Homo sapiens: one gene and its partners. The protein of the gene in region 2 purifies or fractionates together with the protein of the main gene of each other region. This does not show direct contact. Each region holds a gene or a part of one and is shown on either strand. Other genes may lie near its edges. The genes, in order: HP1BP3, FGD1 and TAP2.

What was found.
Region 1: the proteins of FGD1 (region 2) and HP1BP3 purify together in Homo sapiens (affinity purification with mass spectrometry; one large-scale study listed by BioGRID and IntAct). This does not show direct contact.
Region 3: the proteins of FGD1 (region 2) and TAP2 purify together in Homo sapiens (affinity purification with mass spectrometry; one large-scale study listed by BioGRID and IntAct). This does not show direct contact.

Annotation. Positions count from the first base shown.
Region 1 is NC_000001.11:20,745,808-20,749,307, reverse strand, and holds part of HP1BP3 (heterochromatin protein 1-binding protein 3), read left to right. Parts: intron 1-1,652; coding exon 1,653-1,764; intron 1,765-3,500. UniProt on the Homo sapiens protein: Component of heterochromatin that maintains heterochromatin integrity during G1/S progression and regulates the duration of G1 phase to critically influence cell proliferative capacity.
Region 2 is NC_000023.11:54,468,670-54,472,398, reverse strand, and holds part of FGD1 (FYVE, RhoGEF and PH domain-containing protein 1), read left to right. Parts: intron 1-911; coding exon 912-1,085; intron 1,086-1,638; coding exon 1,639-1,816; intron 1,817-1,941; coding exon 1,942-2,383; intron 2,384-3,522; coding exon 3,523-3,612; intron 3,613-3,729. UniProt on the Homo sapiens protein: Activates CDC42, a member of the Ras-like family of Rho- and Rac proteins, by exchanging bound GDP for free GTP. Plays a role in regulating the actin cytoskeleton and cell shape.
Region 3 is NC_000006.12:32,824,915-32,828,968, forward strand, and holds the end of TAP2 (antigen peptide transporter 2), read right to left. Parts: coding exon 3,992-4,054; 3' UTR 501-3,991; downstream 1-500. UniProt on the Homo sapiens protein: ABC transporter associated with antigen processing. In complex with TAP1 mediates unidirectional translocation of peptide antigens from cytosol to endoplasmic reticulum (ER) for loading onto MHC class I (MHCI) molecules.

The DNA of each region.
Region 1 (3,500 bases), on a different chromosome or scaffold from region 2:
ACTACTGACTGAAAACCAAGAGGGAACAGCTTTACAAATTTCATATTTACAAAAAGAAAAACAAATAATCAAAACTGAATTCTTAATTTAAAGCATCTGCTTATAAGAAGTTGCTTTTACTGTAAAGATTTTTCTGATATTTATTGTAATTTAGATAAATCTCTAGGTTCAAAGCAACTCTAAATTATAGTGTATTTTTTCCTACTTTTGAATGTTCACCAAAAACATCTAATTTTACTTTGAAACAAAGCCAGGATTTTAGAGTACTTACTACTTATATTATTTCTTATTAACCTAAGCCCCACAACAGACAATACTTTATTTCAGTAAAGTATATTTACTCTAGGAGGTGGTGATTTGAGATGAGACACCCTGCCTTATCAGCATTATCGTGTGGATTGGTGAGACTGGGTGACTTCTCAATGAACTATTAGAAGAGGCACAATGTTGTAGGGTGAGGGATATGGAAATTAAGTAACAGAAGAAGACAATCCAGAATATATTATTGTAATTAAAAGGTAATTTTGAAGTCTTTTTTTTTTTTTAGACGGAGTCTCGCTGTGTTGCCCAGGCTGGGGGGCGCAGTGGTGCGATCTTGGCTCACTGCAAGCTCCGCCTCCCCTGGGTTCACGCCATTCTCCTACCTCCACCCCCTGAGTAGCTGGGACTACAGGCACCTGCCACCACCCCTGGCTAATTTTTTTGTTTTTGTATTATTTGTTTTTAGTAGAGACAGGGTTTCACCGTATTAGCCAAGATGATCTCAATCTCCTTACCTCGTGATCTGCCGGCCTCGGCCTCCCAAAGTGCTGGGATTACAGGCGTGAGCCGCCACGCCCGGCCTATTTCTATATGCCAGATGTTTTAAGAGAAGATGAATTTGGTTAACAAGCCTTTCAGTTTCACTGATATTTGCAGCTGTTTTTTGGATACTGAATCACCATAAAATATATTTTGGATATGTCTCTGTAAGAAAGATGAGAATGAAGGACTTCAGGAACCATGATATTGTTTTGTTACTGTTTACTGATTTATGAATAATTAGTTCTGTTCATCTTTATAAGAGATTCTCCTAGATGATTATCAATACCTATAGGTACACAATAGATGTTTAAGTGAATGGAAATAATTAAATACTTAGTTTTAGGTCTGCTGTTTATGTGCTACCTTAGAGCAAGTCACTTAACTACTTTGAGCTCAAGTCACTTAACCACTCTGGGCTTTTTTTTTTTCCCTGTGAAATAAGGTATTTGACTCAATGGTCTCTAATGTGTCTTTTCATTATAACTCTTGCCAGGTATGGTGGCTCATGCCTGGAGTCCCAGCAGTCTGGGAAGCCAAGGTGGGAGTATTGCTTGAGCCCAGGAGTTTGAGACCAGCCTGGGCAACATAGTGAGACTTTGTCTCTATATTTTGCAAAATTTTAAAATATAGATATATGTATGTATGTATGTATATAATTTAACTCTTGCCAAACTTATGGGCAATAAGTAAATGTTTAATTAAATACCTTTGAACACATAGGATTCACTTAGTGTATGTCAATTACCGTATGTGACAGGATATTAAATTGATGGGCATCTGTTTGTGGTTGAGGGAATTATCTAATCTGAATAACTAGATAACTTTCATTTCTGAATTTTTTTTTTCAGTGCATTTGCTGAAAAAAACCCTGCAGAAATGCGAAAAGAATGGGTGGATGGAACAGATCTCTGGGAAAGGGTTCAGTGGCACCTTCCAGCTCTGTTTTCCCTATTATCCCAGGTAAGTACTTAGCCTATAATAGATCACTGTAAATTTATAGTCTAAGTTACACACTCAGTTTAATTTATTTTACCCTTATTACTGTTTTAGTGAACTGGAAATACAGTCGTCCTTTGTTACATATAGGGGATTGGTTACAGAACTGCCCGCATACCCAAATGCGCATGTACTCAGCCCTGTGGAATCCATGTATCTGAAAAGTCTGTCCTCTTTGTATGCAGGCTTCGCATCCTGTGGATGTTGTATTTCTGATCTGTGTCTGGTTGAAAAAAAAAAGTCCACATATAAAGTGGGCTAATGCGTTGCCAACCTGTGTTGTTCAAGGGACAACTGTATTTGAAAATAAAGATGACTTTTAAGGCAGTATTATTTTGGAGTAAAAGGTTTTGTATAAAAATAGTGATTTTAGCCAGGCATAAGATTATTTGAGATCCTCGGATGGTCATTTTGATGTTCATTCCTTCTTTATCAAGTAAATGATAATGACAGATTCTTAGAGGATTATGTATAAGTTTTTGTTTTTGTTTTTTGAGACAGGGTCTCACTCTATCGCCCAGGCTGGAGCAGTGGTATAATCTCGGCTCACTGCAATCTCCGCCTCCTGGGCTCAAGTGATCCTCCCACCTCAATATCCCACGTAGCTGGGACTACAGGTGCGCGCCACCACACCCAGCTAATTTTTGTGTTTTTTGTAGAGATGGGGGTCTTACCATATTATCTAGGCTGGCCTTGAACTCCTGGCTCAAGCAGTCCTCTCGCCTCAGCCTCCCAAAGTGATGGGATTATATGCATAAGTTTTAATTGTCCAATACCAAGTGGGGAGAACATTGACTGTTTTCAAGAATCTTAACTCTACCTCCATACTGTAGAGACAGGAACACTTATCTGAAAATTTGTTTCTTGCAAATACCTTATTTATTCTTTGAAACAAAAAAATATATTGATCACCTCCTGTGGTCCAAGCATTGTTTCATGCACTGGGTTTAAAGCCTTTTGATTTCCAGTAAAGTACATAACATATACCACTAAGACCCTGTTTTAGCAAGACTATTGTGTAACTTTCTTATATTATTATTTCTGTACAAACATAAGTGTTACTTGGCTTAATACATATTATATAAATTTTTCGAACATTAAACATTAAATTTAATTCCCAAAGTCACACACACACAAAATGTTACATTCTGCCAGGTGTGGTGGGATGCACCTGTAGTCCTAACTACTTGGGAAGGTGAGGTGGGAGGATCCCTTGAGCCTAGGAGTTTGATTCCAGCCTGGGCAGCATAGCAAGACCCTGTGTCTGAAAAAGGCAAGAAACACACACACACACACACACACACACACACACACACACACATATATGTATGTATGTTATCATTTAAGGATATGTTAATCAAAGGAATCAAGGTTCATACCACCAAGGACAAAAAAGAGTTTAGGAGATCCTTGCCGAATACCTTTGAAGCTTTGAACAGATTTAGGCCTTTGAGGTCTTTTTTTTTAAGACTTGGAGGTCTTTTGCCAGTATTATGAGGCTGAAGTGTGTATTCCATGCAGACTGTTCATTGCTGTGTACTCATTGGCTAATACAGTGCCAGATACATATTAGGAGTTTAAGTAATTGTTTACTAAATAAATGACTATGGATTAATTTTATTAAATAGTGGGTATAGAATTAGGTATGGTGCAGGACTTTTATAGATTTGGCATAACTTTATATGTATGTTCAAAATACG
Region 2 (3,729 bases):
GTGTGGCAGAGGTGGAAGATGCATGTGGGTCTGTGTAGATGTGGAAGTTGAGGAAGGTAGTACAGATTGCTGAGAAGTTGGGATTTTCTTTTTCATTTTTCTTCTTTTTTTTTTTTTTCTTGAGACAGCGTCTTGCTCTTTTGTCCAGGCTGGAGTGCAGTGGGGTGATCTCAGCTCCCTGCAACCTCCACCTCCCAGGCTCAAGTGATCCTCCCACCTCAGCCTCCCAAGTATCTGGGAATACAGGTGCACACCACACTGCCCAGCTAACTTTTATATTTTTTGTAGAGACAGGGTCTCACTTTGTTGCCCAAACTCATCTCAAATTCCTGAGCTCAAGCAATCCTCCCTTCTCAGCTTCCCAAAATGCTGGGATTACAGGCATGAGCCACTGTGCCCAGCCAGAAGTTGGGATTTCAAGAAGCAAAACTTGCTCATGAAACACAATTTCATCATTTTTAAGCACACTTAGCTGCACAAAATTGTAAACAAGAAAGTCTAGATATTCTCAGGGCCTTAACAAAAGCGTTGAAGAATGGTTTATACTCAGCATACCTATGTGGCTGTAGAAACAAGGGCTGCAAACGCATGTATAAACTTTAGGGTGCTCACAGCCACCCCCAGCCTGGTTAAACTCCCTAGTGATACTGCCTGCTGACATACATGGAATCAATGCACTAGTCACAAAGAATTCTTATCTATTGATGAAAACAGCCAGCCCCAGCCCTGGGTCTGGCTCTCCATCTGAGGGCTAGGATAGGGGCTTCCCAGAAAAACACTGTGGCCAGGAAAGGGGCTCAGAGAAACCCAATACCCCAGATAGCTGCTAAGACATGCCAGTCCTAACTTTAACCCCAGTCCCCTTTGGGTTAAAGTCAGTTACTTCACACCCATTTTCTCCCTTCCTGCAGGGCTGCACCAGGGAAACCGGATCCTGGTTAAAAGTTTGTCCCTTGACCCTGGCCAAAGCCTAGAGCCTCATCCAGAAGGTCCCCAGCGGCTTCGCTCAGACCCAGGTCCCCCGACTGAAACCCCTAGCCAGCGTCCTTCACCACTGAAGCGGGCACCGGGCCCGAAGCCACAGGGTAAGTGGTCCTGGAAAAGAGCAGAGAAGTGGCCCAGGGGAGGGTACAGAGGAGGGGAGAAGTTAGCCAGTGGCAGAGAAGAGGGTTTGTTAGAAGGATAGGGAGCCACCATGCTCCCAGGGCAGTGCTACCTACCTAGTGCACAGAGTGCTGTGGCCTGAGGCTAATGTGTGCATACTGTGATCTCACCTTAGCCCCTTTGTGTCTACCTCAGGCAAAGGTGCAGATTGGTGTTTGTGGAAGGGGTTGTGGCCTGGCCATGACAGCCAGCCACCTCCAAATCCAGCTTTTTTTTTTTTTTTTTTTGAGACAGAATCTCACTCTGTCACCAGGCTGGAGTGCAGTGACATGATCTTGGCTCACTGCAACCTCCGCCTCCTGAGTTCAAGCAATTATCCTGCCTCAGCCTCCCAAGTAGCTGGGACTACAGGCACGTGCCACCATGCCCAGCTAATTTTTGTATTTTTAGTAGAGATGGGGTTTCACCATGTTAGCCAGGCTCAAATCCAGCTCACTGATGTCTCCCTTCTCTCTTCCCCATTCGTCTCTCCAGTGCCCCCAAAGCCCAGCTACCTGCAGATGCCCCGGATGCCCCCCCCACTGGAGCCCATCCCCCCTCCACCATCACGCCCACTGCCTGCCGACCCCCGAGTGGCCAAGGGCCTGGCTCCCAGGGCAGAGGCCAGCCCCAGTTCTGCAGCAGTATCCTCACTGATTGAGAAGTTTGAAAGGTGAGTCTGGTCCCTAGGGCACCCTCTAGGGGAAAGGGGGAGCCTGGGACAGGAAGGGATAGTCAGGAGAGGCCTCTCAGTCAAGCTCATACCCTGCTTCCATGTGTGTCCACCACCCACCTCAGAGAGCCTGTGATTGTCGCCTCGGATAGACCAGTCCCTGGCCCCAGCCCAGGTCCCCCAGAGCCAGTCATGTTGCCACAGCCAACCTCGCAGCCACCAGTGCCCCAGCTCCCCGAGGGTGAGGCCTCCCGCTGCCTGTTTCTGCTGGCTCCTGGGCCCCGGGACGGTGAGAAGGTGCCCAACCGGGACAGCGGCATTGATAGCATCAGCTCGCCATCCAACAGCGAGGAGACCTGCTTCGTCAGTGATGACGGGCCCCCCAGCCACAGCCTCTGCCCTGGGCCCCCTGCCCTGGCTAGTGTGCCTGTTGCCTTGGCCGACCCCCACCGGCCTGGCTCCCAAGAGGTTGACAGTGACCTGGAGGAGGAGGACGACGAGGAGGAGGAGGAAGAGAAGGACAGAGAAATCCCAGTGCCCCTGATGGAGAGACAGGAGTCTGTGGAGGTACTGACCTGTGTTCACCGAGAGGCAGGTCCATGTGGAGAACCTGGAAGCGCCTTTTGTGCTTGATTCTTCCCCTAGCTCAGTATTTCTCGAAATAGGACCTTGTTTCCAAGCTCTGTGACACTGGGCAAGTCTTTTCCCTTTCTGCTTCCCTACCATAAGCCTCAGTTTCCTTATTTGTAATACGGAAAGTCTCTTACTTACATCCATAGAGACTTCTCAACAGCTGGAGGAGGGGCGCAAGAGCTAGAGCCCTGCAGGGGCCCGAGGCTGTGCAGATGAAGGCTCTTGGCAGCAGAGACCCCTTTCTGTGCCCGGGCAGCCTAACATTTCTTCAGAAGGCACCATCGCACTTGAGTTAGATCTCAGCCGGAATACTTGCTCTGCTAGGACCAAGCTCAAGTGTAGGGGCCAAAGCCAGGGACTGCCGGCATGGCAGGTAGTCAACACATATATCTAAGGAATAGGAAACTAGGCCAACAGGCAATGAGTTTTATACGTTCTTATACTTTTGTGCTTTTCTCACACCCCAGGTACTCAGCAAGCCCTTGCTGATAGTGTACTGAGTGGGTGAATAAATGATTAATTAACATTTATATACCATTTAATCTGTAGTCTGATGTGTTTTATTTATATTAAATTATCTAATTGTCTCCATTACCAATGGACTTCAGTCCTATTATTATTTTGTTTTGGTTTTGTTTTTGTTTCTCACCAGCCTCTACATTAAATAGATTCTATTATTATCTGTATTTATGGATGAGGCGTCCTAAATACAGAGCTGTTAAAGAACTTACACAAGCTAGTGAATGGCAGAGCTTAGGATTTGAACCCAGGAAGTCTGACTTACCATCCCACATGCTTAACCACTACACTCTGCTGAGTGAATAGAGAGAGCGGGTGAATGAGTTGTTGAGTGAGGGAGTGCACGTCATCAGAATGGAGGGGTAGGCTTTATGGTAGACTGGGGACTCAGGGATGAAGCTGAAGGACTTACAGATCTAGAGATGGGGGTCAAGGTTATCCTAGGGTGGTATTAGGCTTAGAGTGGCATGGGAACTGTTTTAAGAATTCTGGGGGCTTGGGTGAGGGTTACGATAGAGGATGATGGATCAGGGGTTACTGTTTCTCCTTTCCAGTTGACTGTGCAGCAAAAGGTGTTTCACATTGCCAATGAGCTCCTGCAAACTGAGAAGGCCTACGTTTCCAGGCTCCATCTCCTGGATCAGGTGAGTGGCCCCTTGGGGGTACGAGGGCCCCAGGACCTTGTAGGTGCGTTTCAAGGAGGCAGTGATAGGGCCTGAGTTCAATCCCACCATTGTGGCCAGAATTTAGAGGCAGTAAGG
Region 3 (4,054 bases), on a different chromosome or scaffold from region 2:
ATTTCTCATTCTGATTTTCCAATATTTTAGACAGATTTGTTATTGTTGTTTGTGTGTGTGTTTATTTTTCTCATCTTTGCTCCCTTATCCTTCTGGGTTTAGTATCTCTGTTACTTACATGATAATATTAAAAAGCAAATGATAACTACAATACAATGCTACTTTCACCCAGAAGATTGTCAAAATTTTAAAAATTAACACTGTCTGTTGGTTATATACATATATATATATATGGAGAAACAGATAAACTCATATGTTGCTGCTGGAACTATAAATTAATATAGCCTCTATGAAGGCAATTTTGCAATATCTATCAATATTTGTAATGTATATATTGGACTCAGCAACTCCCCTTTAAGATTGTATCATACTTGTATTTTTGCACATGTGCATTACAATGTCTATACAAGACTAACTAGCAACAGCAAAAGACTTCCAATAACCTAACTAGCCATCAGTAGAAGGAAACAGGATAAATGAAATATGGAACTTCCATAAAATAGAATACTACATAGCCATATATTTTTAATTTAAAAAATAAAGTTCAGAACAGTGAACTTAGACAGCTGCTGTTTGCGAAAATACTGAGCAAGAATAAAGATATACATATTTGCTTAATACACAGTAAACTTCTCTGGAAAGATAAACACAAAGCTGGAAGAACGGATTGCCTATGCAAGAGGAATTAGCAAACCTTGAGAAGGATTGAGAGTGAGGCTTTCCTCTGTATACTTCTTTGTGTCTTTTGAATTTCAAACCACATTCATATATTGCTTATTTAAATAAATAAATAATATATTTTAAAAAGAGGATAGTAGGAAGATAAGTGGAGTCAGGGAGTATAGGCAACTCTTTTGAGGAGTTTTATGCAAAGCTGGGCAAGTCCACCTCTTCCTTAGCTATGTGACCCAGGCAAGTTAGTAAATGTTTCTAAAACTCCATTTTCTCACTCTTAGAATTGAGATAGTAATACCTGCCACATAGAATTATCTTGAAAAATAAGGTAAGAAGACAGGTTTCAGATACTTGGCACAGCAATAGCACATAGTAAGCACCAGTGAATGCTTAGTAGTAGTAGTAGTCTAATTCCTAAGAGTCCATGGAACTCTAGGTTCAAAACCCAGTTTCTTCTGGGACCATTAGATGGCATCAGACTCAAGCAGGTGCTCCTCTAGCTGACAGCTCTAAAACACAAGGAAGATCTTTGTTTTCCTTATTCCCTAGTCCTTTCCCCACAAAATTCTGACAATTACGCATTTCCTGCTTGTTTCACAATTGCCATGTGGATTACAAGTGGCTATCCCTGGGTGGAGGCATAAAGGACTTGAAACTCAATGCTGTTTCCACATAGGGCCGGGCAGACAGGCTATGGAGGTGTTTTGGCATCCAAGGAAATCTATCAGTTTCCCAAGCTTTCCCCTCTCCATTCATACTTTCCTTTAGAAAGAATAAGGCATGCCTGGGTGGGAAAGATACTGCAGGTAAGCGACAAGAAGGGGAAATTACAGGGTAAGGAGATCAATCAAATGGTGATGGGGGGTAGGAGTGAACAAAAAGAACTCTGGAGCAAACCAGGATTAGTGACATCTGTGGTTCCCAGACAAACCACACTTACAGGAATTTGTCTGTCTAGCCCGAATATTTTGACTTTCAGGGAGCATTTTTCTGTGTCCCTGACATAAAGCCTACCTGGGAGTTTCCCCTGAGATAAGAAACTTTCAGGACATCTTAAGGTCTACTGCATCTTCCTGTACTGCCCATCAAGATAAGTTTTCCACCCAGCTTTATCATGATTAGCTGCGTGATTTCATGTCAGTTTCTCTGTAAAATTAGGTTTGACTGTTGCATTATTTTTAAGATGCCTTCCAGGCTTAAAGTATTATGATGCATGGGTATAACTGTACTGAGGAAATCAAAGAATTTCTCAGATCATCTTCTTCTGTGAGGGCTGCAGCTTCCATGTAGTTGGGAGATACAGGAATTATTATTCCTGTTTTATGAATAAAGGACATTTGTGGGAGAGAAAGGAATCAGGCCAGAGTTCTTTCTCTCCAAATGCCTATTTTACCCTCTGTGAAATTTGAGAGATGGATGGGTGTGGAGCTGCAAGTCAGCCCCAGGATGAAAGAAAGGCAAATCTGCACAAGAAACTGCCCACTCTCACCCCATCCTCACTGCACCCTGCTCCCAACAGCTGCCAGGCAAGAAAAAATCCAAAACAGCAGTTCTGGGGAATTCATTGCCAGCACTGGAAACTACCTGCTGTTTCCAGGAATATGAAGGTTTCTCTTTCCTAGAATAGCAACTTTCCAAGGTAAGTCCCTCCCAACAACCAGTGATGTGTACAATGTTGCATTTTCAGTGGTGGGAGTGGGCAGGGAGGATTAAGATTAGTACGATGGTGGAGATATTTATTCATTTATTCAATTGACTATTTATTCTCCACTATGAATTAGGCCCTCGGCCAGGTAGCAGATATAAAGCTTAATAAGATATATGGCTTTCCGCCCAGGTGCTCATGGTCTAGTGGAAGGTCAAAAAAGGTGGGAAAGGGAAGATAGAACTTTAAAAGGGCTGTGAAAGAGGTAACCGCACAGTGATAGAAGCACATGGAGAGTTCCCCAGACTGACGACATAAGTAAGGCCTCCTGGAAGACCTGAACCCTGAGTTAAGTCTTGAACTTGAAAATCAGGGGCGAGTCGAGCAGAAAATGGGCAAGAAAACACCATATGCAAAGGCACAAAGGTGTTGGGGAAGGCAGAAGTTTGTCGTGGAGCTGGATACAACAGGAGAGGGTGAGACAGATGGGCTGGAACAGTGTGTGCTCTGAAAAGGATCTCTGCAGCAGGGCTTGAGAGCACCTGAAGGAATTTCCAGAAATGCCATCATCGTATGTGACACAGAATTTAGAAAAATGACTTTGTGAAGAATGGCCGGAAGAGGGAAGCTAATGGTAGAGAAACCTCTCTGGTGATGGGATCATCTTAAGTCTATGAGTGAAGACTATAACAACGGGACTGGAGAGAAGAGAATAGATTCTGAATTATTTAGAGCTAAGAGCAGCAGAGCTTTTCTTGATGGGATTATGGATTAGGGTTTATGGACCCAAGATGCAATATAATTGATTGGGTCAGGGTGTGGACTCTAGGGTCAGGCCTGTGTTCAAACTCCAACTCCACCACTACGACCACCTTGGGAAAGTCATTGAGCCTCTTTGAGCTTCAGTTTCCTCATCTGTAAAATGGGGATAATAACCAACCTCATAGGGTTGGGGATAATGATTAAAAACGATAATACATGAAAAACACTTAGCATAGCTCCTACTCCCATTAAAACTCTATAAATGGTAGCTGTTACCAATGTCGCTATTAATACTGTTAATCAGGGAACTGTTCTCTGTCCCTCCAGACCCTAGCTTCTTCAAAATAGCAGACACTGGTAGGAACAAGGAAGGATATAGGAAGGCAATCTCATGAATATTTATGTCATTTTTGGTTAATTTCTATCTCAAACAACAGATAAACGACTGATGGGACAGGCAGCAAAATAGCAACTATGGTTATCTCCAGGAAGTGAAACAATGGGTACTTTTACTTTTCTTCTTTGTACTTTTTTATATTGTCTAAATTTTCTATATGAATGTATACAGTTCATGTAAGAAGGAAAATATTTTAAAATATATGTATTATGCCACAAAATACTCCTCATCACCAGGCAAAGCTCTAGTCACCAGGGAATTAAGTTTCCTGGACACAGACAGCCCCCACCCCACCCCACCCCACCTCTCTACCCCACCAAAAGCACACAGTGTCCAAATCTCCATCGTGCCTGCAACTCAGGAACAGCTATCTGGCCGCACAGCTCTAGGGAAACTCAAAGCAGGAACAGCTCTGGGTCCTGGAGACGCCCCTGAGAAGAGGGCCCAGTATCCCTGGGGCCTCAGTCCATCAGCCGCTGCTGCACCAGGCGGGAATAGAGGTCCTGTCCCTCCTAGAGCTGGGCAAGCTTCTGCAGCTTGCCCTCCTGGAGCACCAGGATCTGGTGGGCGCGCTG